4 linked regions of the Homo sapiens genome follow. The protein of the gene in region 1 purifies or fractionates together with the protein of each later gene. This does not show direct contact. Each region holds a gene or a part of one and is shown in the gene's direction. Other genes may lie near its edges.

Evidence for each region.
Region 2: the proteins of OPALIN (region 1) and WDR48 purify together in Homo sapiens (co-immunoprecipitation; 2 studies listed by BioGRID and IntAct, with this or other methods). This does not show direct contact.
Region 3: the proteins of OPALIN (region 1) and ATP13A1 purify together in Homo sapiens (co-immunoprecipitation; 2 studies listed by BioGRID and IntAct, with this or other methods). This does not show direct contact.
Region 4: the proteins of OPALIN (region 1) and ATP2B4 purify together in Homo sapiens (co-immunoprecipitation; 2 studies listed by BioGRID and IntAct, with this or other methods). This does not show direct contact.

Annotation. Positions count from the first base shown.
Region 1 is NC_000010.11:96,348,991-96,356,014, reverse strand, and holds part of OPALIN (opalin), read left to right. Parts: intron 1-724; coding exon 725-760; exon of another isoform or gene 761-819; intron 820-2,486; exon of another isoform or gene 2,487-2,559; coding exon of another isoform or gene 2,560-2,568; intron 2,569-4,604; coding exon 4,605-4,637; intron 4,638-6,188; coding exon 6,189-6,308; intron 6,309-7,024. UniProt on the Homo sapiens protein: Central nervous system-specific myelin protein that increase myelin genes expression during oligodendrocyte differentiation. Promotes oligodendrocyte terminal differentiation.
Region 2 is NC_000003.12:39,062,014-39,069,037, forward strand, and holds part of WDR48 (WD repeat-containing protein 48), read left to right. Parts: intron 1-1,036; coding exon 1,037-1,177; intron 1,178-3,797; coding exon 3,798-3,876; intron 3,877-4,534; coding exon 4,535-4,617; intron 4,618-4,732; coding exon 4,733-4,862; intron 4,863-4,943; coding exon of another isoform or gene 4,944-5,057; intron 5,058-6,757; coding exon 6,758-6,846; intron 6,847-7,024. UniProt on the Homo sapiens protein: Regulator of deubiquitinating complexes, which acts as a strong activator of USP1, USP12 and USP46. Enhances the USP1-mediated deubiquitination of FANCD2; USP1 being almost inactive by itself.
Region 3 is NC_000019.10:19,660,675-19,668,261, reverse strand, and holds the start of ATP13A1 (endoplasmic reticulum transmembrane helix translocase), read left to right. Parts: upstream 1-4,585; 5' UTR 4,586-4,595; coding exon 4,596-4,991; intron 4,992-7,587. UniProt on the Homo sapiens protein: Endoplasmic reticulum translocase required to remove mitochondrial transmembrane proteins mistargeted to the endoplasmic reticulum.
Region 4 is NC_000001.11:203,629,813-203,636,836, forward strand, and holds part of ATP2B4 (plasma membrane calcium-transporting ATPase 4), read left to right. Parts: intron 1-7,024. UniProt on the Homo sapiens protein: Calcium/calmodulin-regulated and magnesium-dependent enzyme that catalyzes the hydrolysis of ATP coupled with the transport of calcium out of the cell. By regulating sperm cell calcium homeostasis, may play a role in sperm motility.

The DNA of each region.
Region 1 (7,024 bases):
GCTAGAGTAACAGGGGCTAGGGACAGGGAGGAGAAAGGAGCCACCTGAGGCCCTGGGCAGGCTACTTGGTGCTCCACTGAGCCCACGATCTTTAAATTTGGACTCCATATTTGCGGGAGAGGTGAGACCATCTACTAAGTGAGGGGAGGAAAGAGAAGGGTTTGCTGTTCCCCTGTCCTCCTGGCCACTTCAGCTCCAGCAACCTAGAACCTCTGCCTCAGTTGTAGCAAAAACAGAAGCCTTGCCTTCCCCGGGTAAGGATCAGGTGTTCTTGTTAGACCATGCCCTTTGGGGGTCTTACCTTCTACTCCAAGGAGAAAACACAAAATACTTCTAAATTCAACAGTTTTCTGTCTCAAAGGAGTTCTAGAGGGAATAAACATAATTTTAGCCTTTTGCTGAATTTCTAGTCATGTGTTTGCTGCCCTTGTGAATGGGACCCCTCAGACAATAGCCTTGCAGGCTGCCTCTTCATCTGATCCTGGTCGAGGACCTGGTTGGGGGCGGTGGCAAGACTGACTTGATGCTGAGGGAGGAACTCATGACAGGCTCCTTGCCTCCCCTTCCTTCTTTTGGGGCCAAGACTGTGCAGGACGATGGGGGCTGGCTGAGTCTATAGGATCAATGACCTCTCGGAATCCACCAGGGTCAGTGAGTTTGAGGAAGTGAGGAAGGAGCTTGCTGACCATCCCTGGGAGCTTTAATGTTTACTTCTATCTTGCAGAGTTTTTCACTGAACTTCACCCTGCCGGCGAACACAGTAAGTACAGCAGCCCCCATTCACCAGGCAACGCAGAGAAGACCAGTGCAGAATTTACAGTAGGTCTCCAGAACTCACATAAACCCCTCACACACGGTGATAAGTTACACAGACTTTCTTTTTTTTTTTTTTTTTTTTTTTTTTTTTTTTTTTTTTTTGAGACAAGGTCTTGCTCTGTCACCCAGGCTGGAGTGCAGTGGCATGATCTCGACTCACTGCAACTTCCACCTCCTGGGTTCAAGCGATTCTCCTGCCTCAGCCTCCTGAGTAGCTGGGATTACAGGTGTGCACCACCATATCCGGCTAATTTTTGCACTTTTTAGTAGAGACAGGGTTTTGCCATGTTGGCCAGGCTGGTCTCAAACTCCTGACCTCAGGTGATCCGCCCACCTCAGCCTCCCAAAGTGCTGGGATTATAGGTGTGAGCCACCGTGCCCGGCCATTTACATAAACTTTCAAAACGCACTGAGGAATAGTTGAGAGATGCTGAGAGAATTTATTTCCATTATAAAACTTATAAATACACATTTTGAAAAGGAAAATAGGAAAACAACAACAACAATAAAACACCTAAACTCTCATCAGCAGAAAACTGGTGTAACCCTTCCTGTCCTGTTTGGCGTTACATAAATTTTGACTTTTGTTGCCTTTGTACTATTGTTTTCTTACTCTACATATAATTTTATATCTAAATGTTTTCCACTAGTCTTTATAACCATAACTGTTATATGGTTAATCACATAATCATGTGATCATATTATGATCGCATAATATTTTTTCAAGTTAATTATTTCTTCAGTTGATTAACTATCATTAGGAATAACTTTGTGATACATGGCATTTTAGAGAATCCTTATCTGCATTTAAGATAATTTCCTTGTATGTATTCTAAAATGGGAATGATTGGGTCAACAAGAATGAACATTTTATGGCTCTTGATTATGGCATTTAGTTGCAAGTCAAAATTGAGGTTTTCAATTGTCGATGTTAGAGTTTCAATCCACAGCTGATCCTCCGTCTTCTGTTTGCACATTGCATATAGATAACACTAAGAGCCAAGGTTGTTATCTGATCAGTAGCACTACTATGGTTGAGCAAGGCATTTTTCTGGCCCAGTTTTTTAGTGGGCTTGGCTGTGCCACATTTTTCTGATAAGTTGTCTGGTTATTCAAAGAGAATAAACTGAATCTTACTCGTAAGAGGACTCCTAAGCCAGTGCTCATTTTACTGAAACATGGGGGCATAGTTCTAGAGAGTAGCATAAAGTTAGAACATTGTGACTTATTGCTGGACCTGTGGTGCCCACCACTGTCTGCCCAGACCTCTGTGAACTGAATACATTGGCACCTGCTCCAGCCTCTGGTGGGGGGCACTTCTGAACCTCCCCAACTTGCTCTGCTTCCCTGCTTCAGCTTCTGCCTGTTGGTTTCAGGCAAATTCCCTAATTCTTCCTCTTTTTCCTGTCAAAACCTTTTCCTTCAATCACTGCTGGAACTTTCCCCTGGCTGTTGGAACCCAGCAGGTCCATAGACACTCCAGGTTCTGTGTTATCTTGGCCCATCACATCAAGAGAATGCAGAGAAGCAAGAAGCCATTTCTTGGGGAGTGGGGGTGAATGGGGTGGAAGAGAGCCCTTATGTGGCCAGTCATCACCCTTTGGAGTACTCTCTTGGTTAACAGCTCATTTCTCTGAGAACTGTCTCTTCACCCCTTTGATCCCGTGTAGAGCAACCAACCATTTTGCTTTGCCTGGTGTTGTCTGTTTTTAGCACTGAAAGTCCTGGGCAGCTCTCTGGACAATGCGGATGGTAGGTCATCCTGCCTGGAAGTCACATTTCTACTGCATAACCCTTCCACTTCAGTGCAGCTGGGTAGCCTGGGAATGCCAGTGCCCTGGGAAGTGGGACAGAGGTGGGCACCTGGATCCCTCTCTGCGGGAAGTTTGGAACAGGGCTCCCTGCTGGCCAGTCCCTGCTGAGGACTGAAATGCCAGGTTCAGTCTATTTGTCAGTTCAGTCCATACTGAACTGTCAAGTATGAAAAATGGGACTAAGACACTGCATTAGGCCATGGAGGCCATGTAGCACAGTGGTTAAGAGCATGGATCCCAGAGCCAGACTGCCCGGGGGGGTGTCACCTAGGGCTGTGTGACCTTACACAAGTTACTTCACTTCTCTGTGCCTTGCTCCTCTCATCTGTAAAATGAGATCATCATAGTCCCATTACTATTCACTGGCAGTTGTATAGAATAAATAAGTCAATATGGGAAAAATTCTTGAACAGCCTGGCACATCCTAAGTGCTCCATGGCATTAGCTGGTACAATTAGCAGGAGTTTATGAGGGCAGAAAAGTCCATCTGGAGAGAAAGAGAGAAGCAAACATCAGAGAACAGTACAGGCAGAAGGCCGTGCTGCTCTGGAGCGAAGGAGAAAGGAGGGTGCCTTCGGTTCACACAAGTTCCCCGTTCCAAGGTCCACTCCCTGGAGAAACCAGCTTCCCACCTGTCCTTGGGCTCCATGGGACACTCCCATATTCTTAGAGTTAACACCTTCCTTTTTTTTTTTTTTTTTTTAGTGAAAGCCACCCTAAGTGTATTTCTGTACTCTGAAGACAGGAAGCCTTACCTGAAACAATGGCTGATTCTTCCTACTACCCTTAGAGCACCTTAGGGAAATGCAGGATTAAAGTAGTGTGGGGGTAGGGGTTGGGGAGATTGTGATTAGGTCAAAGGACAACCATTTAAGTACCAAGTTTCAGTGCCTGGTCATCAAAACCTTCTTTTGATGGGAGCTCTCTGGGAAAGAGGTCTGGGCTTGGAAGTCAAACATCCAAGTTCAGATTAGAGTTATGATTATCTGTGAAACCTTGGACAAGCCCCATAACTTCTCTGAGATCTATTACATTTTTTTTTTGTAAAATGGAGTTAATAATTGTCAAAAGTCCAAGCCCCAGGACTCCAGTATACTTGATGAGATTGCTGAGAGTATTAAATAAATAACAGATCTGGACAGAGCTTTGCAAAGTGTAAAGGGCTGACAAGAGTTCATAGTTCTGCTCCTCATTCAATCCTCCTAATAACCCTAGAGGCAGCTACTACTATCCCTGTAGATATTGTGTAGATAGAGACATGCAACCCCTTAGCTTGTAAATTGAGAAATGGCTGTTCTATGGCAGGCAGTGTGAGCCCAGGACCTGTGCTCTTAATCCCACAGCATACCACTTAGTGTAGTTTACATAGTTTCTCATGCAGAACTTTATTCCTTTAGATTTCCTAATCAAGGTAAACTCTTGCCTGAAATATCTTATAAATGAGTGAAATCCAATAACTCATTGGACCAATAACTCAGTGGACCAGAAACATGTAATGCATTCATTTCATGTAGAATTATCCCCAGGAGCATGGATATTTGACAACTTCTGCCATTTGTTTCATCACATACTTGAAAACAAGCAAGGCTTCCTTAAAGAGCCTTGCTTCCACCAGTATTTATATGTGTTTCCCTTCTAGCAATGGGGACAAGTAGGCCCAAAGTGTGCCAGGTGTGCTGACTAGGGACAGGAGGAAGCCCTTTTGAGTTGTAAAATGTGTCACGGTACATCCACAGGGTGAATAATGAAGACATTGCCTGAATTTCCTAATTCTTTTCTCCTTGTAGCCAAATTTTATTCCAATTCTTACCTGGGAAGCAATCAAGTTAGGTTCTGTTTGGTAGTTGTTAACAGAAAGTTTAGCAAAGGGATAAACTTTAGGCTTTATAGCCTAAACTTTGGCAGATTGTCTTGTATAATGTATATTCTATAGACTTTTTGTTCTTTTACAATATATGTTCTTTTTCCATACAGACGTCCTCTCCTGTCACAGGTGGGAAAGAAACGGTAACTATATCACTTAAATTTATAAAATGGGGATAATAATAATGCTCCATCCATCTTGAGCATTTGTTTTGAGCTTTAAAGTTTGATAGGTGAACTGTCACTAAGCACAGAATCTGGCTCAAGAATTATTCTTGACCAGCTCCGCTCAAAAGTGAGGGAGAACATGCAAAATCACAGATGGATTTCACAAAGGGTTGAGCAAAAGAAGCCAGACACAAAGAGTGCATATCTTATATTTGCATCTATATTATGCTGAAAAACAGACAAAACTACTCTATGGCAATAGATTTCAGAATAGTGGTCACGCACAAGGAGGCTGGAAGAGATTTGAGGGGGATCCTGAGATACTGCTAATGTTCTGTTTCTTGATCTGGGTGTTGGTCTTATGGGTGTATTCCTCATGTGAAAAGTCATCCACTTATATATTTGTGATTCATATACTTTATTATTCTTCAATAAAATCAATTTCCCCCTAAAGTGAAGTGAAGGTGAATCCATTATTAAATAACAGTTGCACTTTTATAGGGTTTCTGCAGATTATCTTCAATATTTCCAGATAGTCTGCAAATCTGAAAACTTATGTAACTAAAAGCATGACTATTTCCACTCCGATCAAAGCAAAATGGGAATTTGAAAATTAATAGGTTAATGCATTTATTGCAAATAAATTTTTTTTGAAAGGCTAAATGTCACTTTTTTATTTATTTATTTTTATTATACTTTAAGTTCTAGGGTACATGTGCACAACGTGCAGGTTTGTTACATATGTATACATGTGCCACGTTGGTGTGCTGCACCCATTAACTCGTCATTTACATTAAGTGCAAATAAATTTTTTTAATTCATATTAAAATAGTGTGGTATGGCTGGGCATGGTGGCTCAAACCTGTAATCCCAGCACTTTGGGAGGCCAAGGCAGGCAGATCATGAGGTCAGGAGTTAGAGACCAGCCTGGCCAACATAGTGAAACCCCATCTCTACTAAAAATACAAAAATTAGCTGGGTGTGGTGGCATGCACCTGTAGTCCCAGCTACTCAGGAGGCTGAGGCAGAAGAATCGTTTGAATCCAGGAGGCGGAGGTTGCAGTGAGCCAAGACTGTGCCATTGCACTCCAGCCTGGGCAACAGAGCAAGACTCCATCTCAAACAAAAAAAAAAGTGTGGTGTATAATAAAAGCTTTTATTTTTAGCCAAACAGGTGAAAATGACATCTAATTGTTGCTCTGAATTGTATCTCAGCTTTTCCTACATTGAAGAGACATTTGTATTTCTGTTCTAAAGAATACCTGTTCATATCCTTTGCCCATTTTTCTACTTGATCATTACTCTTTCCAACAGATTTAAACTGTGTAAATTAAGTCCTATGAAAGTAAGTCATTTGTCATGTGTGTTACAAACATTTTTGCACAGTATTTCATTACCCTTTTGATTTTGTATATGACGTTTATGATCCATGCAGATTTTTTGTTTTATTTTTATTCTATTGAATTTTTCCTTTATTATTGAAGACTCTGGGCTTCCTCTGACCCTGTGTTTTTCATTCTGTGCCAGGACTGTGGGCCCTCTCTTGGATTAGCGGCGGGCATACCATTGCTGGTGGCCACAGCCCTGCTGGTGGCTTTACTATTTACTTTGATTCACCGAAGAAGAAGCAGCATTGAGGCCATGGAGGTGATTACTAGCTTCTTTGGGTCCAGATGTATAGGCAGCCACCAGTATTTCAGTGAACTGGCTTTTGGACTAAGGGTGTCAGAATTCAGGGCCCATGTCTATTTCCTGAGGACAAGATGCTGGAAGTTTCTGGGCCATAATTTCCACTGCAGACATGACATTAGGCACCAGACAGAGCTGATTTGTCATAAAACCTTCAGGTCAGTTGAGGAATTCCTGACAAAGATGGTATTTGGGGTAACAAAAAGTAGCAGTGGAGAAGGATGTCTGTTGCCATGGCAAACACATGTCTGTACAGTGGGTGTGCTTTCTAAAGTTGAGAAACAAAAGCGCACAAGCTTCACAAAGAAAGGATGGAGATAACGTTAAGAAAGATAGGAGATGAAGAGGGGCTGAGGTGTCCATGATAGACACCATGATAGAATCACAAGGGAATCTATATCCTCCCCATCCAATCCACCCCTCCAATGCCAGACTGTTCTGGGGACTATGCTTAGAAATCAAAAGCCACCTAGACTCATATCCAACAAGGTTCCATGGTTGTGACACAACTGTGTCATGTGGACTCTGGGTTCTAATTCTATTCTCTATTTATTGACATTCAAGGTTGTTATCATATGGGTAAACATTAATTAAGAGATTGAAAATTGAGGTTCTAAACCTGACTCTGCCACTTTATGATTTATATGATCCTGGACAAGTGACTTAACATTTAA
Region 2 (7,024 bases), on another chromosome or scaffold:
ATGGGTAGATTGCAAAAATTTTCTCCCATTCTGTAGGTTGCCTGTTCACTCTGATGATAGTTTCTTTTGCTGTGCATAAGCTCTTTAGTTTAATTAGATCTCATTTGTCAATTTTGGCTTTTGTTGCCATTGCTTTTGGTGTTTTAGTCATGAAGTCTTTGCCCATGCCTGTGTCCTGAATTGTATTGCCTAGGTTTTCTTCTAGGGTTTTTATGGTTTTAAGTCTTAACATTTAAGTCTTTAGTCCATCTTGAGTTAATTTTTAACTGTTTATTTCATTACATTAGAAAGTTTTACTTCTGGCTGCCAGCCAGCTTATTGACTTTTTCTTAGGTGTAATTGTTTTCAGTTGATCCCCTGTTTTCACAAGGAACAGACAGAGGTCACCAACAGTAACAAAGTAGGGGAAAATGCCCTGAAGAAAAAGTTTAGTATGTGATAGGAGCTCAAAACCTCATTTTGCTTGGCAAGTCAGGGAAGGCCTTCTAAAGGAAGTATTGTTTAAATGGAAACCTGAAGGCTGCAACAAGAGTTAGCCAGACAGGTCGGAGGAAGAGCTTCCAAACAGAGAGGACCAGCATGTGTGATGGTCTGGAGGCACAATGCACCAGAACCTGGAGCAGAGATGAGTGGCCAGAAAGACAAACAGGGTACTTGAGACCATGTTAAGGAATTTACATCCAATCATGAGTCTAGTAGTCAGCAACTGGAGGTTTTTGAGCAGAGCTGAGATAGATTTTTAAATAATTACTCTAGCTGCTTTGTGAAAAATGGACTAAAGACTGGGAAAGGAGTCCAGTCAGGAAGCAGTTATAGTAGTTTAGCAACTTACTCATGTTGGACTAGGCTATCATTGATACCATCCTTCTCTTCAGCCCTTTAGTCTTTAAGGAGTAAAATTTAAATTTGTATTGGGTTGAAAAAGTACATATTGGAAAACATGGGATTTTCTGTTTCAGATTGGCCACTAGTAGACTATATTTTATTACTGCATGGCTTGTACTTTATAAAAAGCATATGTTGACACATTTGTCAGGTTTCCTATGTTATTCGAGATGAAGTGGAGAAGTACAACCGAAATGGAGTCAATGCTCTGCAGCTGGATCCAGCACTAAATAGACTTTTCACAGCCGGTCGAGACTCTATCATAAGAATATGGAGTGTCAATCAGCACAAGGTAATGCAGGGATTAAAATCTGTACCCAGCAAATTCTGGACAAATGGCTTTTACTGTCTAATATGACACTTTTCACAGTTTCAGATTTAATCTCTCTGAATGCTGAGTTATTTGGTACACTCTATAAAGACATCGCAACCAGAATTCTGTAAGCCTCTGAGAAAAACCATCCCTAGGAAAGTTTCAGAAGTGTTTCAGCTAAGACAAGGACTCCCTAAACTAGGTTTGCCTTACAGAGTTCTTTGCCACAAAGGAACAAAGTGATTTGGCTAGTAGGGGGATTACTTTCAACAATTAATTTTTTTGCTTTAAATATGTTCCCCAACAACCTCTTGGTAACCTTACTAAAAAAAGATTGAATATTCTTTTACATTTCTAATTAATCTTGAAAAAATATTTTATTTTCCTCACTTAAAAGTAATTAGGATCCTCACAAACCCCACACGGCCTAACTAGGTAATACAAGGTTAGGCTGAGCATGGTGGCCCACACCTGCAATCCCAACAATTTCGGAGGCCAAAGTGAAAGGATTCCTTGAGTCCAGGAGTTCGAGACCAGCCTGGGCAATGTGACAATACCCTGTCTCTGCAAAAAAAAAAACTTAAAAATTAGCTGGGCATGGTGGCACACACCTGTAGTCCCAGCTACTCGGGGAGCTGAGGTGGGAGGATCACTTGATTGAGTATGGGAGGTTGAGGCTGAGTGAGCCGTGATCACACCACTGCATTCCAGCTTGGGCAACAGAGGGAGACCTTGTCTCAAATAAATAAATAAAGATAATATAAAATTGGTGTTAAAACTATGAAGACAACATGCTCCCCTTCAAAGATTTCCCTTTCTTAAGCAGGGAACAGGGTTTAAATATGTGTAAAGATAAATCCCCAGGCAAATGGTAACGAGCCCTTTTAGTATTTTGTTGGAACACCTATATTGTGAATGACAGAGAAAAGAAGAATCAGGGAAGAAAAAAAGAGCATTTATTGATCTTCTAATTATGTGCCATACGCTCTTTGCATTTTCATATCCAATGTGATTTTAATTTTCAGTGTCCCTCAAGGTACCTATTAGGATCCATTTTCTTTTTTTTCTTTTTTTTTTTTTGAGATGGAGTCTCGCTCTGTCACCCAGGCTGGAGTGCAGTGGCGCGATCTTGGCTCACTGCAACCTCTTGACTCCTGGCTTCAATCAATTTTCCTGCCTCAGCCTCCTCAGCAGCTGGGACTACAGGCACACGCCACCACATCCAGCTAATTTTTATAATTTTAGTAGAGACGGGGTTTCACCATGTGGGTCAGGCTGGTCTCAAACTTCTAGACTCAGATAATCCAACTGCCTTGGCCTCCCAAAGTGCTGGTATTACAGGCGTGAGCCACCGCGCCTGGCCAGATCCATTTTCATAGATGAGAAAATGGGCTCAGAGAAACCCATGGTTATGTGGCTAGGAAGTGACAGAGAATTAGTACCCAGCCCAACTTGAAAACCCTAGTGCTAGACCTTGTATTTTTAAAAGTTTGTGTCTTTTTAGCAAGTTTTACAAGTCTGATATTCAGTTCAGAAAAAGAACCACTACTTTATGCGCCTATAACTTCAGTCTGGCAGGCTTTGAATTCTTTAGCCAATGGACCATGCAGTGGTGGCCAAATGTCAAAAGCATGAAAAGTAAGAAAACTATGTTTGGCTTTGAAATGCTTTTTGGTACTTATAATTGAATTGGAATGTCTCCTTTCTGAGCATTCACAGTATTTCAAACAAATTAAGAAAAACACCCAAAAGAACTAACCTGAAGAATCTGGAAATCTGCCTGTCTTGCCCCAAACATCTTTTTTCTGGTCTTCCTTTTATGACAAGATTGAATAGCATTATTTGTCAAACAGACTTGTACAGAGCTGTTCTGTTTGCCCATAAAGTGTCTCAAACTTGCCTGTTTTAGGTGTAGGATGTAACTAAATACTGTTCTTTAAAAGGCCTCTCCTGGTTATTAAGCCAGGTAAGAGAAGTAGAATCTCGAATCACCTAATTGAAATGGTGACACAGGTTGTCCTTTCTCAGCCGTTGGGTTTCCTTTCATCTCTGAAGGCCTGTAGGTACCATGAGGAAAACATTTAATTCAGAGGGTGAACCCAACAGTAGGAAGCTGAAAGCAGAAGTGTTTATCTCCCTCTGCATTCAGACCAGGCTCCTTAGTGCACTCATCAGACTCATTGCTGCCCCTGCTGTCTGCTGTTGAGCCTTCACCACCACTCATTCAAATCCCCACAGCCTACAGATTCCTACAAGTCATGTCCTTTCTAGTGAACCCTTTTTAAAGGGTTTTATGTCACACACAGTGCCTAGTCCAGAGCTTGTTGCCTTCACTTTAACAAGGCAAAAAAAAAAAAAATGAAGTATTTGTCCTGGAAACCTAAGCTTTCAGTAAGAGTAAAACTGTCCTGAAACAAAACTGTTTACATCTGTTATCTGGAAGCATCACCTATTTGGTGAGATTCTACTCAGAATTCAGGTGTTAGTTTTAATGCCTAGAGCAGTATGTCACATTAATTGAAGAATTTAACCATATCTATCATTTGTAATATATTTCATTCTCTCATATAAACTCTTAGGATTTTTCTTTTAATTTCAGCAAGATCCATATATAGCATCTATGGAACACCATACTGATTGGGTAAACGACATTGTACTCTGTTGTAATGGGAAAACATGTAAGTATTTCTTTGGATTATTATTGGGCTTCTGATATATTTTTTGTTTTTTATATAAGCTTTTTTATTGAAACATACATACAGAAAAGTACACACACTTCGAGATTGCAGTTCAACACAATTTTAGAAAGTGAATACCCAAATCAAGAAACAATATTACTAGAAGCCCTCTTGTGCCACCCTTTGCCACCCTTTCAGTTATTCCCTCTTGCCCCAAGGTAACTGCTCTTCTGTCTTCTGAACACCAAAGGGTAGTTTTGCCTTCATTTGAACTGTATATAGACTCGTACTATATGTATTCTTCTTTTAGCCTTATTAATACCTCTTTTTGTTCTAATTTTGGTGAGATCCATTCCTTGGTTTTGCAGTCCGAGTTACAGGAATTTTTCTCAATCACATTAGTTGAGCCTTCAACTGGAACATTAAAAATGTTTGCACTGCTTGTTTTAAAAATATATTTTTTTCTTTGAACATGTGTCTTGAGATTTTAAAAAATTGAGGCAATATACAATAGGTTCTAGAAAGAGCTTTTAGGTATGTTTGTGTGTGTAAGAGAGAGAATATGTTAGTTTGAAATAATGTTACATTGTTGTAAGATAAGTTTTCAAAGTTTTAAGTCATACTACTAAGGAGTTTGTTAATTCTTTGCTTCTTCTAGTAATATCTGCTTCTTCTGACACGACAGTAAAAGTATGGAATGCACACAAGGGATTTTGCATGTCAACATTAAGGACACATAAGGTAAAACAATACAGTTCTCAGTGTCTTTAGTGTAATATTGGGATCTCAGTACTTTGTGTGGCTCATTTTATTACTGATCTACAGAATAGATCATAGTATGTCTGTTCTATTACAGGATTACGTAAAGGCCTTAGCATATGCCAAGGATAAAGAACTAGTAGCATCAGCTGGGTTGGACAGACAAATATTCCTTTGGGATGTGAATACTCTAACAGCATTGACTGCCTCAAATAACACTGTCACAAGTAAGGTGTTTAAAAGAAACTTCTTTGAAAGTGATCCAAGTTAACATAAATAAAGAATGGTTTATAAAACATTTTTGATAGGTTTGCATCGAGAGAGTGTTTCATATTTTGAGAGTGCTTCTACCTACAGCGTTCTGGCCCCCAAGAGTATGATTGAACAACAAAGAGCTAGTTCCTCACTGCAGTCTAAAAATGGTAACTTCTCCAGGTATAACCTGGTTATTTTTTGTACGTGTGCATGTCTTAGCTCCCTAGCTAAAATGTAAGTCCCTGCAGGGTAGAGGAGACTGTCTTACTACTTCGTATCTCCCACAGCATTCCCTGGTCCAAATCCATACACTCAGCAGGTATTATTGAAGGAGGTGGCGATTTTCTGACAAAGTAGGCGGTTTTCTGACTTTTTAAAGTGTTAAGAGCTTTTGAGTTAATAGCCAAGATGAAAAATACCCAGGAGAAAGAAAGAAAAGGTTTCCAGTGCCAGTTTATCAAATTTTCTGCCTTTTAGAGCAGCCCTGAGGAATCAAGCCAATTCCAGAAGAGCCAGAACGGTAGAGTGCTTCTAGAGGCAATCCAGAGATGTTCACAGCATGGATGATTCATCAGCTAAGAGATCTCAGACTACCAAGTCAGGCTCATACAAGTCTAGATTTGAAATTGAGCTTCATGCTTGGCCCAACCTAGTAGAGTCCTCTAGGCCAGGTTTCAGAAGGGACTGTTAGGAGCACATTTTTGGCTAGGCCTGACCTGGAAAGTCTACATTGAAGACATGGGCCTGCATTCTCTGGATCCCTACATTATAGGTCCATTTTATAACGACTCTGTGGAGTGTTCACATTGACATAGACAATACAGTTTTACTAATATAGCCTAGTATGTGCCAAGAAGGGTAAGTTGGGAGACTTGTGTTTATAATCTCTTGATTGTTGTTTTGCCTTGTTTTCCAGGAAATATGTGAAGGTCTCAACATTCTTTTTCCCTTGTTCTTGATTTTTCACCTGTACATTATCTCTGATTCATTAGCTGGTCCCTGTTGGGGCTGTCATGGTACATCATTAGGTTTTAAGTCTGGATGTAAGGCCTGCCTCAAAGAGACACTAATGGGAGGGAACAAAGCAAAAAAAAAAAAGCAGGTTGTCACAAGGTCAGGGCCCAGGCTTAGTGGATACAGATTCTGCTACATCTTGCTTAGAGTTGTTTAGAGAGGATATCACACTTTTTTTTAATACATAATAATAAAAATAATACTAATAATGGCTAACCTGTATTGAGTACTTGCTACAAGTAGACATTTTTCTAAACAGTACATGTAGTAACTCATTTACTCAACTTTTTAATATGTTTGTAAAATTGGGTTCATACTATATAGACAGTTTCATATACATCTTTTTTACTTCAGTGATACTGAGAGTATGAACATGATTTTTGCTATAGTCTGAATTCCTTCCTGAAAGGTTGTACCTATTTATCTTCACATAAGTAATATATGAGAGTTCCATTGTACTGTTTTCTTTTTACAATCAAGTATTACCTTGTTTTTTGTCTTGGTGTATGAAACAGTGTTTTTGGTTTGATTTGTGTTTGAAAAATACTGAAATTGAACATTTTTTCATATTTATGGCACATGAATAGCTTTAAACATATCATTTAAGCGGATAGCTTTTCAATGGCACTGCAGTTTATCAGATATTGAGCATTTGTATATATTCAAATCCAGAAAATATGTAAATTTTGATAATAATACTGTTTAGATTTATCTCCATTATAGGTAGATTTCTTTTCCGTAGAGGACTTATAAAGATAAGATTTTCTAAATTGAATAAACTTGCAGTTTTTGCTGACTAGTTACTAAACAGCTGATGATCTTGTTAACATTTAGCTCCGTTTATCCTCAATAGCTTCTTCTTTAAGTGGAAACAAAGATTCCATTTATAGCCTGGCCATGAATCAACTGGGAACAATCATTGTATCAGGGTCCACTGAAAAGGTAAGGAGGAGCTTATTTCTTTATTTAAAAAAAAAAATTATTTTTCACATACCTTGTCTCCTATTTTTTAAGCAGGTATTTTACGATTAGCTTCTTTATATTTATTTATTTAGAGACTGGGTCTCACTCTGTCACCCAGGTTGGGGTGCAGTGGCATCATGATCCTGGCTCACTGCAG
Region 3 (7,587 bases), on another chromosome or scaffold:
GGGGCTGCCTCCTCTAACTGTGGGGGAGCAGCCCAGCAGGTTAATAAAACTTACTTGACTGACTTCAGGTCTCTTCGTCCTTTCGGCTGACCTTACAGCTCCTGGTTTTCCGGAGCAGGCCCTGTCGGCTTCCTGTACTCAGTGGGTCCTTCCTGCTGCTTTTTTTTTTTTTTTTTGAGACGGAGTTTCGCTCTTGTTGCCCAGGCTGGAATGCAATGGCACGATCTCAGCTAACTGCAACCTCCGCTTTCCGGTTTCAAGCGATTCTCCTGCCTCAGCCTCCCGGGTAGCTGCGATTACAGGCGCCCACCACCACTCCCGGCTAATTTTTGTATTTTTAGTAGAAATGGGGTTTCACCATGTTGGCCAGGCTGGTCTCGAACTCCTGATCTCGTGATCCGCCGGCCTCGGCCTCTCAAAGTGCTGGGATTACAGGCGTGAGCCACCGCGCCCAGCCGCCTCCTGCTTCTTTTTCCGGAACACCGGTCACATGAGTGTGCACGGAATTCCAGACTCCGTGTTCAGTGAAGCCATCCCTCCACCTTGGAGCTGGAGAGACTCCCAGGTCACAATGGAACAGGTAGGAGGCCCTGATGTCCTCCAGAGATCAGGAATTTATGAGGCTATTGGTCCCATGGCCAAGGCTTCCTACACGTTACTTCTTCTCAGGCTACTCCTTTTCAGCCAAGAAAATAAAAACATGCCTTAAAGGGAACAAAATTATTAAATGCAGGGAAAAACTGGAGTAAACCACTTTTTTTTTCTTTTTTTTTGAGACGGAGTCTGGCTCTGTCGCCCAGGCTGGAGTGCAGTGGCACGATCTCAGCTCATTGCAACCTCTGCCTCCCAGGTTCAAGAGATTCTCTTGCCTCAGCCTCCCGAGTCCGAGTAGCTGGAACTACAGGCATGTGCCACCATGCCCGGCCAATTTTTTTTTTTTTTTTTTTTTTTTGTATTTTTAGTAGAGACGGGGTTTCACCGTGTTAGCCAGGATGGTCTCGATCTCCTGAACTCGTGATCTGCCCGCCTTGGCCTCCCAAAGTGCTGGGATTACAGGCATGAGCCACCGTGCCCGGCCTGGAGTAAACATTCTATAAAGGTATTGCTACCAGAAAGGGGTCCAGTCCCAGACTCCAAGAGCAGAAGCTTGGACCTTGTATGGGAAAGAATTAATATTGGAGAAAAAACTGAAAAAGTAAGTATATCGAACTGTATCATGGGACAGAAACATGTCATTCCTATTTTTACTGAAGATTATCTTATTTGATACTATGTGATTATTAAGTCCTATTACATTTCCTTTCTCCTTTTACGAAGTCATGTATCTTAATAATATGCAGCCGGGCACGGTGGCTCAGCCTGTAATCCCAGCACTCTGGGAGGCCCAGGCAGGCGGATCATGAGGTCAGGAGTAGGAGACCAGCCTGCCCAACATGGTGAAACACCGTCTCTACTAAAATTACAAAAATTAGCCAGGTGTGGTGGCGCATGCCTGTAATCCTAGCTACTAAGAAGGCTGAGGCAGGAGAACTGCTTGAACCCAGGAGGAGGAGGTTGCAGTGAGCCGAGATCACAGCATTGCGCCTGGGCGACAGAGCATGACTCCATCTCAAAAAAAAAAAAAAAAAAAAAAAAAAAAAAAAAAAAAAAAAAACCAGAGCCGGGCCCGGTGGCTCACGCCTGTAATCCCAGCACTTTGGGAGTCCGAGGCGGGTGGATTACGAGGTCAGGAGTTCAAGACTCAGCCTGGCCAAGAAGGTGAAACCCCGTCTCTACTAAAAATACAAAAAATTAGCTGGGTGCAGTGGCAGGCGCCTGTAATCCCAGCTACTCGGGAGGCTGAGGCAGGAGAATCGCTTGAACTCCGAGGGCAGAGGTTGCAGTGAGCTGAGATCACGCCACTGCACTCCAGCCTCCAGCCTGACAACAGAGTGAGACTCCGTCTCAAAAAAAAAAAAAAAAAAAAAAACCAGAATATGCAGTGGGTGGCCGCAGCGGGTCACACCTGTAGCACTTTGGGAAGTCGAGGCAGGCAGATCTCTTGAGGCCAGGACAGGAGTTCCAGACCAGCCTGGCCAACATGGTGAAACCCTGTCTCTCCTAAAAATACAAAAATTAGCAGGCATGGTGGTTCATGCCTGTAATTCCAGCTACTAAGGAGGCTGAGGCAGGAGAATCATTTGAACCCAAGAGGCAGAGGTTGCAGTGAGCCTAGATTGCAACACTGCACTCCAGCTTGGGCAAGAGTGAGACTCCGTCCCAAGAAAACAAAACAAGACTAGGACTGGGCACCGTGGCTCACACCTGTAATCCTAGCACTTTGGGAGACTGAGGCGGCCAGATCATTAGAGGCCATGAGTTTGAGACCAGACTGGCCAACATGGCGAAACCCGTCTCTACTAAAAACACAAAACATTAGACTGGGAGCGCTGGCTCACACCTGTAATCCTAGCACTTTGGGAGACCAAAGTGGGCGGATCACAAGGTCAGGAGTTCGAGACCAACCTGGCCAACATAGTGAAACCCCATCTCTACTGAAAATACAAAAAATTAGCCAGGCATGGTGGCACGCGCCTGTAGTCCCAGCTACCCGGGAGGCTGAGGCAGGAGAACCGCTGGAACCCAGGAGGCGTAGGTTGCAGTGAGCTGAGATCGCACCACCGCACTCCAGCCTGGGCAACAGAGTGAGACTCCGTCTAAAAAAAAAAGTACAAAAATTAGCCGGAGCGGTGGCATGCGCCTGTAATCCCAGTTACTTGGGAGGCTGAAATGGGAGAATCGATTGAACTCGGAAAGTGGAGTTTGCAGTGAGCGGACATCGCGCCACTGCACTCCAGCCTGGGCGACAGAGTGAGACTTCATCTCGAAAAATTAAAAAAAGAATATGCAACAATATAAGCTACAAAATTTAAATATCCAATAAATTTTAAGTTTAAATAAATTTGCTGTATCAGAGGACAAAAAGAAACATAAAATAGTTACTGTTTGTCACACATACTGTTTAATCCTACTAATTGGTACTGTTAAGTAGTCCTATTGTGGTTTTGTTCAAATAGCATTTATGCAACAGTACAGTTAATAATATAGAACTATATAATTTCTTTTTTTTTTTTTTTTCAGACAGAGTCTCGCTCTGTCGCCCAGGCTGGAGTGCAGTGGCGCGATCTCGGCTCACTGCAAGCTCCGCCTCCCAGGTTCAGGCCATTCTCCTGCCTCAGCCTCCCGAGTAGCTGGGACTACAGGCGCCTGCAACCACGCCCGGCTAATTTTTTGTATTTTTAGTAGAGACGGGGTTTCACTGTGTTAGCCAGGACGGTCTCGATCTCCTGAACTCGTGATCCGCCCGCCTCGGCCTCCCAAAGTGCTGGAATTACAGGGGTGAGCCACCGCGCCCGGCCTAGAAGTATATAATTTCAAGTAAACACCAGTTTTTCATTTTTTATGTTAAAGTGGTAATTTCTTTTTTTTTTTTTTTTTTTTTTTGGAGACAGAGTCTCGCTCTGTCGCCCAGGCTGGAGGGCAGTGGCACAATCTCCGCTCACTGCAAGCTCTGCCTCTCCAGTTCGCGCCATTCTGCCTCAGGCTCCGGAGTAGCTGGGACTACAGGCGCCCGCCACCACGCCCGGAGAATTTTTTTTTTTTTTTTGTATTTTTAGTGGAGACGGGGTTTCACCGCGTTAGCCAGGATGGTCTCGATCTCCTGACCTCGGCCTCCCAAAGTGCTGGGATTACAGGCGTGAGCCACCGCGCCCGGCCTAAAGTGGTTTTTGTAATTCATTTTTCTTTTTTTTTTTTTTGAGACAGTCTTGCTCTGTTGGCCAGGCTGAAGTGCAGTGGAGCAATCTTGGCTCACTGCAACCTCCGTCTCCCGGGCTCAAGCAATTCTCCTGCCTCATCCTCCCGAGTAGCTGGGATTACAGGCATGTGCCACCACGCCCGGCTAATTTTTGTATTTTTAGTAGAGACGTGGTTTCACCATGTTGGGTCTTGAACTCCTGATCTCAGGTGATCCACCCGCCTCGCCTCCCAAAGTGTTGGGATTACAGGCGTGAGCCACCGCGCCCGGCTAGTATTTGTAATTCTTATCTATCACATTAAGGCTCTTGTCCGGTGTGGTTGTGTTCCGGGGCGGTCCCCGACCCCGCCCCTCACAAGCCCCGCCCCCCGCACCGGGCCCCGCCTCCTGAACTCCGAAGCTCCCGACCCCGCCTCCGCAGGGTCCAGGCTTCGCCCCTGGTGACAGGTGGTGCTGGTGTAGTCAAGGAGGAGGGCTCGCTTTTTTTGGTTCAGGTTGTCATGGTGGCGCCCAAGCCCGCCTTGCCGGCCTTGTCTTTTCCGGTCTCAGTCCGGCGTGGCAGCGGAGGCAGGCACCGTTAGGTCTTCCAGTCCCTCTCTGTCATGGCGACGCCCAGCCTCTTCTTCCGGCCACAGCCTGTCATGGCGGCACCCGAAGTAGTCCCTGCCGGGGCCAGCCTGTTCTGTTGCCCTGGCTCTTCCTAGTCCAGGCTGCCATGGCGGCGCTCAGGGCTTACCGGAAGTAAAACTTCGGAAGTGAGGCGTTCCTCTGCCCGGAAGTGAGCGCGGCGCTAGGAAAGATGGCGGCAGCGGCGGCGGTGGGCAACGCGGTGCCCTGCGGGGCCCGGCCTTGCGGGGTCCGGCCTGACGGGCAGCCCAAGCCCGGGCCGCAGCCGCGCGCGCTCCTTGCCGCCGGGCCGGCGCTCATAGCGAACGGTGACGAGCTGGTGGCTGCCGTGTGGCCGTACCGGCGGTTGGCGCTGTTGCGGCGCCTCACGGTGCTGCCATTCGCCGGGCTGCTTTACCCGGCCTGGTTGGGTGCCGCAGCCGCTGGCTGCTGGGGCTGGGGCAGCAGTTGGGTGCAGATCCCCGAAGCTGCGCTGCTCGTGCTTGCCACCATCTGCCTCGCGCACGCGCTCACTGTCCTCTCGGGGCATTGGTCTGTGCACGCGCATTGCGCGCTCACCTGCACCCCGGTAAGTGTGTACACGCGAGCCCGACCCCCAGCACGGTCGAGCCTCGCCGTGGGTCCCAGCTGCGGCCTTCCTGTCGGTCACCATCGCGACCTGGGCCACTCATCTGCCTGGCCTGGATTCCCAGGGGCACCCTCTACACTTTGGCGCAGGCTTAATCATGACCCCACTGCTGACTTGCTGTGCATGCCTGGTGCGGGTTATTTCCTTTTTCTGAAGTCCTCCCTGTTATGGTCATTTAGATTCAGTGATGTAATACTTGTAAAAGGCTTAGCGCAGGGCCCAGCATACGTCGCCCAGGTCAGGTAGGAGTTGTTTATACTAGTTCCCATATTAGCGACTACTCTTGTTCTGGAAACGGCCCTACCTTCCATCTCATCTGTCTCCTACCTTGGTTTTCAAAGTGTAAGGCGAGATCACTGGGATAGGTTTCCCCCATCTATGAAGCTTAGTTGGTTCTTAGACTGAACCAAGTCTTGCTGTCCAGTGCTTAGTGGTCTTCCATACTGTGATGGAAAGGAGCATGAAATGCAGTTAATTACAGTGTTGAAGAGAGGCAGAGGTGTTTATGAGCGAGTCATTTACATGATGTCTTTCCGCAAAATGAGGGTGGTGATACTGAGTTCTGTCGGGGATACAACAGCAAGCAAGGTCGCGCTCCTGACCCACAGTTTAGAGTTCTGAGTGACCAAGTGTCGTCGGAGGAGTTGGTGACTGTGAGCTTCCCTGGGCCTGAAGCAGTGACTGTGTCGTCTCTCTCTGGGCCTGCCTCAGGTGACACCAGCAGGTTTGGAGCCATGGACACTGAGGTATATCAGGAAGCTTCCCCTCTGATTCCAGGAGTGTGTTTGCCTCAAGAAGAGGAAAAGGGAACAGCATCAAGGGCTACAGAAAGACAGAAGCCCCCCACCCTGGCTGGCTCTGAATGTGGGTAGAATCCTCATTCTCCTCTCCTGAGAGACAACCTGTTCTGTCCTTCAAAAAGACTTATCTATCCCAGGGGAGGAGCTCAACGTGGTAGCTTTGAGGTAGTACAATGAAAGACACCAATGAGGGACAAAATAAAGGAGGGGTTAAGGGGACTGTGGCACCGCTCAAACTTCAGCTGCCTTTTGACCTGCAGCTAAGCAGCTTAGCTCTTAACTTCCTCTCCAGGGATGGAGAAGTGGGAGGAGCTGAACAGCCATCAGCCAGGAGAGGTGGATCTGGGTTTGATTCAGATCTCAGAAAGGGCCGCTTCTGCTCTCTGAGTTTCAGTTTCCCCCTTCTGTAAACTGAGAACCGTAACTAACAACTACTGGGTGCCATCTTGAGAAGCGGAGATGATATCTGCAGAGTGCCCGCCCTGGGGCCATCACAGCGTATAGCCTCTTGTACCTTTCTTCCGTGACGTCACGTTTGTAGTTATGTGATTGTTGTTATTTGCTGCCTGCTTTGGAGGCCCATGAACCACCCGTGCGGTGGCGCTTTGTTTCTGCGGGTCATCATTGTGCTCCCCCCATCTCCATGCAGCTCGTCTCCATGCAGCTCGGTCTAGCAGAGCAGCAGAGGAATGGATGGCGGTTCACGGGGTCCAGGGAGCACTGAACGAGTTCCATTCAACATTTCTGTGTCTTAGGTGCTGGGGAAACAGCAGTGAACAAAACAGGCAAATCCCCCTGCCTTTGTGGTGTTACTGGGAGGGAGAACTCATAGTCAGCAGTTGATGCCAAACAGAGATGACATCTAACATCAGGACAGGATGGGACATTGCCGGGAACTTTAGATGGGGCAGCCAGGGAGGGGCTCCTGAGAAGGTGATGTTTCAGCAAAAGCCTGAGGCAGCAAGGGAGCTGTGTGACTGTGTATTCCGGGCAGAGAAAACAGCACATGCCAAGGCCCTTTGCTGAGGCACGATCGAGCCCCATGTGCGTGTGGAGCTGTGGAGTGTAGTGAGCAGGGTTGGTGGAAGAGGCAGAGCTGAGCAGGAGGCCGGGGGCCTGTGATGGGGCGGGGGCTTGGCTCACGTGAATTGAGGACGTACTGGGTGGGTGCCTGGCAGCGTTCTTCCTATTTGAGTTCATGTCACCTTCAGCAGAGCAGAGCCCTGGGCATTAGGTGCTGTCTGTGCACCCAGCTTCCCAGCTTTTTTTGTTGTTGTTTTTGTTTTTGTTTTGTTTTTTGGGGTTTTTTTGTTTGTTTGTTTGTTTGTTTTTGAGATGGAGTCTGGCTCTGTTGCCCAGGCTGGAGTGCAGTGGCACAATCTCGGCTCACTGCAACCTCCGCCTCCCAGGTTCAAGTGATTGTTCTGCCTCAGCCTCCCGAGTAGCTGAGACTACAGGTGCCTGCCACTATGCCCAGCTAATTTTTATATTTTTAGTAGAGACGGGGTTTCACCATATTGGCCAGGCTGGTCTCAAACTCCTGACCTCGTGATCCCCCCTGCCTCAGCCTCCCAAAGTGCTGGGATTACAGGTGTGAGCCACTGCACCCAGCCTTTTTATTTTGAGACAGAGTCCTGCTCTGTCGCCCAGGCTGGAGTGCAGTGGTGCAATCTCGGCTCACTGCAAGCTCTGCCTCCTGGGTGCACGCCATTCTCCTGCCTCAGCCTCCCAAGTAG
Region 4 (7,024 bases), on another chromosome or scaffold:
AAGGAGCACAGCCCGTCTTACCCCTGGGACTCCCAGCGCCCAGCACGGAGCCTGGGATGTTAGAGCGCTGGGTCAAGGCATGTTGAGAGAAGCACGGGCAGTTTGGGGGCCTTGGAATCAGCCTGACGCCAGCGAGTTCCTAACCCGCCGTCTGGCCTCCAGTTTCCCCTCTGCACAATGGAAAGCCTGCTCTCCACGGTAGAGGTGACAGGGCGTGGCTAGGCAGATTTGTCACACTGCTGTGGTCTTTGTCAGAAGAAAATCAAAATGAGAGGGCCCAGTTAGGGGCAGAAGGAGAGCAGTTAGAATTTGCCGAAGGTGTGGGGGCTGGAAGAGGTAAGGTGATGTGTAGGGGCTGGATGTCCTGGGCCAGGATATCGGGAGGCTTTACTCTTCCCCACTCCCACTAACCGGAGGTCCCGAGAGGAACGGGGTCTGGGCTGCTCCCTGCCACCTGTCAGCAGGTCAAGCCTTCCACCGGAAACTGCCCCTTATTCAAGAATTTAGCTTCTCTCAAAAACTCCGAAACCCCTTTTCTCTCTCTCTCTCTCTCTCTCTTTTTTTTTTTTTTTTTTCAATGCTCCTGGCCTTGGACCCAGCACCCAAAGACATGGATTAGCCCTATCCACTAGGACAGAGCATTGCAGACCCACTAAGCCTTGGAGAGAGAAAAGGATCTTGTTCATTCTTAGTCCCCAGAATGACCAAGACAAACCCCGTTAGCCAAACCCCTAAAAAACTGTTTGGCTTAGGTTAGATTAGCTCCAAGTGTTTGACCTTGAAGGGGAACACCCCACCCAGAGTCTTAACTATCCTTCTCTGGAAGGATTCTTCAGGCAATCTGAATTCTTCCCCCGAAGGGCGCCCCTCAGACAAGGCTCCCTACCCAGCCCAGTTCCCTGCTTCTCAGATAAGCATTGATTCCTGTCATCCCAGTGGGTATTTGGTGGGTAGGGGTGAGAAGGAAAGAGGGATGAGAAAAGCAAGGCCTCTGCCTTGTCAGACTGGGATGACAACCTTTCTCCACTCATGTCCCCTTTTCTGCAGGTCATAGGATTAGAGCAGGCCCTGGGGCTGGAGTCCAAAATGCTTGTGTGGAATGTTTTGCCCTTGGCTTCCTCTGCCAGTATCTCTCCTTGTGTCCTCTTTCCTCTTTCCCTTGTGTGAGCCATTCTTGTTCCACTGACTTATTTCCTCTGTACATGTTAAAACAGAAATGACAGGGACTTTCTATTTCTGCCTCTACCTTAAGCCAGTCCTCTGTGTTCAGCCTACATGAACTTGAGTTGAGGAGGGAAACCAGGCAGGATCTAGTGAGGACCAGAGCCAAGGGCTCTGGGTCAGGGAAGAGGCTTGAGAGGCAGTCTATGTGTGAAGGATAGTGGAGAGGCCAAAGGAAAGGAAAGGATTGAGAACATAGGTGCCAAGGGGCAGAGCCCCCATTTCTACCTTTCCTCACCCCAGTTCCTCTCTGCCTAAGATCCTCAGCCTCATTACTCACCTCTGCTCTAGTTTCCCAAGTTTCATGCACAAATCCCTGGGACAACTCAGGGAAGATGAACTGGGATGGGATTACTAAGACCCCCTTCCTCTTGCCTTTCTGCCACTTCACTTGGGGTGTGGCAAAGGGAGTTTGGAGCAGTGCGTTTATTGGTAGGAAGGTCAGGGACTCTCAGCTAGGTTCAAGGAAAGTCTTAGCTTAGAACACCTCATGGCAAGGTCTACCTAGGTTGCGAAATCAATGCCAGGAATACAAACAAGTAGTATACCCTCAATACTAACAGCCCATCTAACATCCCAGGCTCCGTGCTGGGCGCTGGGAGTCCCAGGGGTAAGACGGGCTGTTAGTATTGAGCCCGGGAAGTTAGCAATATCTAACAAAGCTACGTACACATTTACCCAGCAATCCTACGTCTAGGAATTTATCCAGAAGGTGCTCATTCACAAATATGGAAAGCTACGTACAAGGTGATTTTTGTTTGTTTGTTTGTTTGTTTTTTGAGACAGAGTCTCGCTCTGTCGCCCAGGCTGGAGTGCAGCGGCGCGATCTCAGCTCACTGTAAGCTCTGCCTTCCGGGTTCAAGCAATTCTCCTGTCTCAGCCTCGTGAGTAGCTGGGATTACAAGTGCTAGCCACCACACCGGCTAATTTTTTGTATTTTAATAGAGATGGGGTTTCACCGTGTTGCCCAGGCTGGTCTCAAACTCCTGAGCTCAGGCAATCTACCTGCCTGAGCTGGGATTATAGGTGTGAGCCACCAAGCCCAGCCACAAGGTGGTTTTTAAAGGCATATTTACAATAGGAAATCATTGGAAACTATCCAAATGCCCATTCTTTAAAAAATGGTTAAACAAACAATGGTACAGTCCATACAATAGAATCCTAGGTAGCCAAAAAGAAAAAAAAAAGAATGACTAGGAGCCCTGTGAACTTATATGACATGATTGTTAGGATATATTATTAAGTGAAAAAACCAAGACATAGTACAGTATATAGTATGCCACCTTTGGGATAAGAAAGCAGGAGAAGTAAGAAATTTTTTTTTTTTTGAGACAGAGTCTCGCTCTGTTGCCCAGGCTGGAGTGCGGTGGTGGGATCTCGGCTCACTGCAAGCTCTGCCGCCCGGGTTCACGCCATTCTCCTGCCTTATCTTCCTGAGTAGCTGGGACTACAGGCGCCTGCCACCACGCCCGGCTAATTTTTTGTATTTTTAGTAGAGACAGGGTTTCACCATGTTAGCCAGGATGGTTTCGATCTCCCGACCTCATGATCCGCCCACCTCAGCCTCCCAAAGTGCTGGGATTACAGGCGTGAGCCACCACGCCTGGCCTAATTTAAGTACTTTTTAACCTTCATTCCCTGATTCTATATTCATATTTTAAGTAAAAAAAAAAAAAAAAACCACCTACAAAGAAATCTTGACCTTTACTTTGTAGACATGTTATTGGTTGTGGTATTTGTGTCATAAATTGGAAACTGTTTCGTTTATTGTATGATAGATGAAATGAGTAACTATGGTGATATTTCTGGAAATCAGGGTCTCACTATGGAAAAAGAGAGATATAAGTATGGAATGGGGGAAGGGGAAAAAGAATCTTTCGGGGTTTTTTTGTATATCTTGTGGGTCTGTCCACTGAAAGGACTGTGGAAAGGAACACACCTAGTACCTGGATTTTTATTTCTAAGTACAACTTCCCACGGGGGAGGTTGTAAGGAACAGTGCTCCTTGAAAAAATGACTAATTTCAAGTCTGAGACTGGGAAAGTATAAGTGAACTGTGTTGTGCCAGAAACTAGAGCATGCTCATGTCATGACATGTTGTCACAGGAGCTGGCTTAAAGGGTCTCCCGCCAACCAGAGGTGAAACACATTAAGCATTCCAAAGGATAATGGTAATAGATTGTAACACATTGAATATTAAAAATTCCTTGAGTCTATTTTGACAGTTGACATGGACAGGGAGGAGCAGGGAGGGAAAACTCTGAACAGAAATGCCAACGAGGCCAGACACAAGGCCTCACTCTGTAATCCTACCACACTGGGAGGCCAGGGCAGGAGGATCGCTGGAGCCCAGGCGTTTGAGGCTCCCATGAGCTCTGATCATGACACTGCACTCTAGAATGGGTGATAAAGCAAGACTCAGTCTCAAAAAATTAAAAAGTAAATGCCAGTTGGGCGCAGTGGCTCATACCTGTAATCCCAGCACTTTGGGAAGCCCAGGCAGGTGGATTACTTGAGGTCAGGAGTTTGAGACCAGCCTGGCCAACATGGTGAAACCCTGTCTCTACTAAAAATATAAAAATTAGCCGGAAATCGATTGAACTCAGGAGGCAGAGGTTGCAGTAAGCCAAGATTGTGCCACTGCACTTCCAGTGGGAGACAGAGCGAGACTCCATATCAGATAAATAAATAAATAAATAAATAAATAAATAAAGTAAATGCCAACTAATAAAATCTAGTAGTAATGACAAGATTTTTCTTTAAATTTAATTTTATGTGAGGCTGAGGTGGGTAGATCACCTGAGGTCGGGAGTTTTAGACTAGCCTGACCAATATGGAGAAACCCCGTCTCTACTAAAAATACAAAATTAGCCGGGCGTGGTAGTGCATGCCTATAATCCCAGCTACTCGGGAGGCTGAGGCAGGAGAATCGCTTGAACCTGGGAGGCGGAGGTTGCAGTGAGCCAAGATCACACTATTGCACTCCAGCCTGGGCAAGAAGAGTGAAACTCCGTCTCAAAAAAAATTTTTTTAAATTTAATTTTAATAGAAAAATACTAGTTTCATATATGTATGGGGTGTAATGTGATGTTTTGATATATGCATACATTACGGAACGATTAAGTCAAACTATCAACATATCCATCACCTCACACATTTATCGTTGTTTTTGTAGTGTAAACATTTAAAATCTCTCTTAGCAATTCTGAAACATGCATTACATTAACTATAGTCACCATGTAGTGCAGTAAATCTCAGAAACATTCCTTCTGTCTACTGAAACTTTGCATCTTTTAGCCAACATTATCTTTATTTACCTACCTATTTTTAGAGATAGGGTCTCACTCTGTCAGCCATGTTGGAGTGCAGTGGCCCATAGCCTTGAACTCCTAGGCTCAAGCGATCCTCTTGCCTCAGCCTCCCAAAGCACCAGGATAATGGGTGAGACACAGTGCCAGACTGGAACTTTAAATTGACCAGTTTGCAGCCTCTACTATAATAGCTGATTTAGTCTAGCGTTTAATGGATACTAAAACCACTGGGTGAAAGATTGGTCTTAGCATATCTTAGTTTGGGCTGCTAAAACAACATCATAGACTGGGTGGCTTAAGCAACAGAAATGCATCTCTTTGTTTGTTTGTTTGTTTTTGAGACCGGGTCTTGCTTTATCATCCAGCTGGAGTGCAGTGGCACAATCACAACTCACAGCAGCCTTGATCTCCTGGGCTCAAGCTATCCTCCCACCTCAGCCTCCCAAGTACCTAGGACTACAGGCGCATGCTATCATGCCTGGCTAATTTTCATATTTTTTGTAGAGACGGGGTTTCACCGTGTTGTCCAGATTGGGCTCGAAATCCTGGGCTCAAGCAATCCACCTGCTTCAGCTTCCCAAAGTGCGGGGATTACAGGCATGAACCACCGCACCCGGCCCCATTTATTTATTTATTTATTATTTTTTGAGATGGAGTTTTGCTCTTGTTGCCCAGGCTGGAGTGCAATGCTGCAAACTCAGCTCACCGCAACCTCCGCCTCCTGATTTCAAACGATTCTCCTGCCTCAGCCTCCTGAGTAGCTGGGATTACAGGCATGTACCACTACACCCGGCTAATTTTGTATTTTTAGTAGAGACGAGGTTTCTCCATGTTGGTCAGGCTGGTCTCAAACTCCCAACCTCAGGTGATCCACCCTCCTCAGCCTCCCAAAGTGCTGGGATTGCAGGTTTGAGCTATCACACTCAGCCCCCATTTATTTTTGAAACAGGGCCTTGTTCTGTCACCCAGACTGGGGTGCAGTGGTGCAGTCATAGCTCACTGCAGCCTCAAACTCCCAGGTTCAAGCAATCCTCCGACCTCAGCCTCCCAAGTAACTGGAGCAGGTGCATGCCACCATGGCTGGCTAATTTTTTTGTTGTTATTGTTGTTTTGTTTTTTTGTAGAGATGGATGACATAGGAAGACTCCACCTCTACAAAATAAAAAATTAGCTGGGCATGGAGGCTGTGCACCTGTCTGTAGTCCTAGCTACTCAGCAGGCTGAGGCAGGAGGATAACTTGAGGCTGCAGTGAGCCGTGATCATGAAACTATACTCCAGCCTGTTGACAGAGTGAGACCCTGTCTCAAAAAAAAAAGGTGAAACTAAGTAAAGGGTCTGCAGTTGTTTATTGTGCTATTTTTTTCAACCTTTCAGGTTTGAAATTTTTCCAAATACTTAGCCAGAGAGAGAAGTCCATGCCAGAGGCACTCCTAGATTCCTGGTTTCTTCTCACTTTATCTGCAAAACTCCTGACCAATAGGAGTGTCTTTTCTAAGCTCTTGGGTGCTGAGAGTCCCCATGGAGCACACAGAGGGATCTTCTAAGAAAGTAAGGTCCTTTAGGAAGCCTACCTTCCCACCCTCACTGCTCCCCACCCACAGCCTCTCCTGTCCAGACAGGAGCACCTGGGCCCTGATGAGTGGGCCACAAAGGGAGGTAGGATGACAGGCATTCTCCCACCATGCCATGGGGCCAGCTGAGGGAACCTGGGGACTGAGGGCTTCCAGAGTCACCCACCTAACTTTTGAGGAGACAGGTCCCAGGCTGTAAGAGAAGAAATTCACCAAACAGCCCAGAGATTGTTGCTGACCAAACCTTTAGTGTCCCTTAGAATTCTCTAATTAGGTGATTCTGAAAGAAACCAGCAAGCAGTGCCTGCCTGGAGCCTTCATGCCTGAGCTAAGCAAGGCCTTCTAGGCACTCCCTTGGCAAGGGCAGCACACCTGGCTGTCCTGTCATTGACCCAAATCATTGTGCTACCCACCCCCGCCTCCCCATCCTGATCGTCGCTCTGGAGAGAGATTGAGTTTCCAGGATGGCTTCTCTCTCTCTTTTTCTCCCTCTCTTCTCCTGGAAACCCTGGGGCTAGGCCCTACATGACTCAGGGCTCTTTTTACGTAGGCTCATGTAGGTGACGGCTATTAATCCTTTAGTCAATTCCCCTTCTGTGTTGGTGAGGGAGCCTGAAAGAGCGGGAGCCAGGAAGTTGGAAGGGGGCAGACAGGGAGGAGTTTGTTCTAGTGGGCTGCCAGGCTTGCCAGAAGAGCACGGGACTGGGAGTCAGAAAACTGGTAATCTGGACTCTTGTCTGCTGTGTAACCTTGATTGAAGCAGGGGATATCTCTGGGCCTTCATCAACTGCACTGTTACATGAAACCAAGTTTGGACATACAGACATTCCTGATTCAAGACCCTCCTCTTCTATAGAAGACAAAGGAGTAAAACTCTCAATGCCCAAACCAAACTCTTTTATCACAGATAGAGTCTAGCA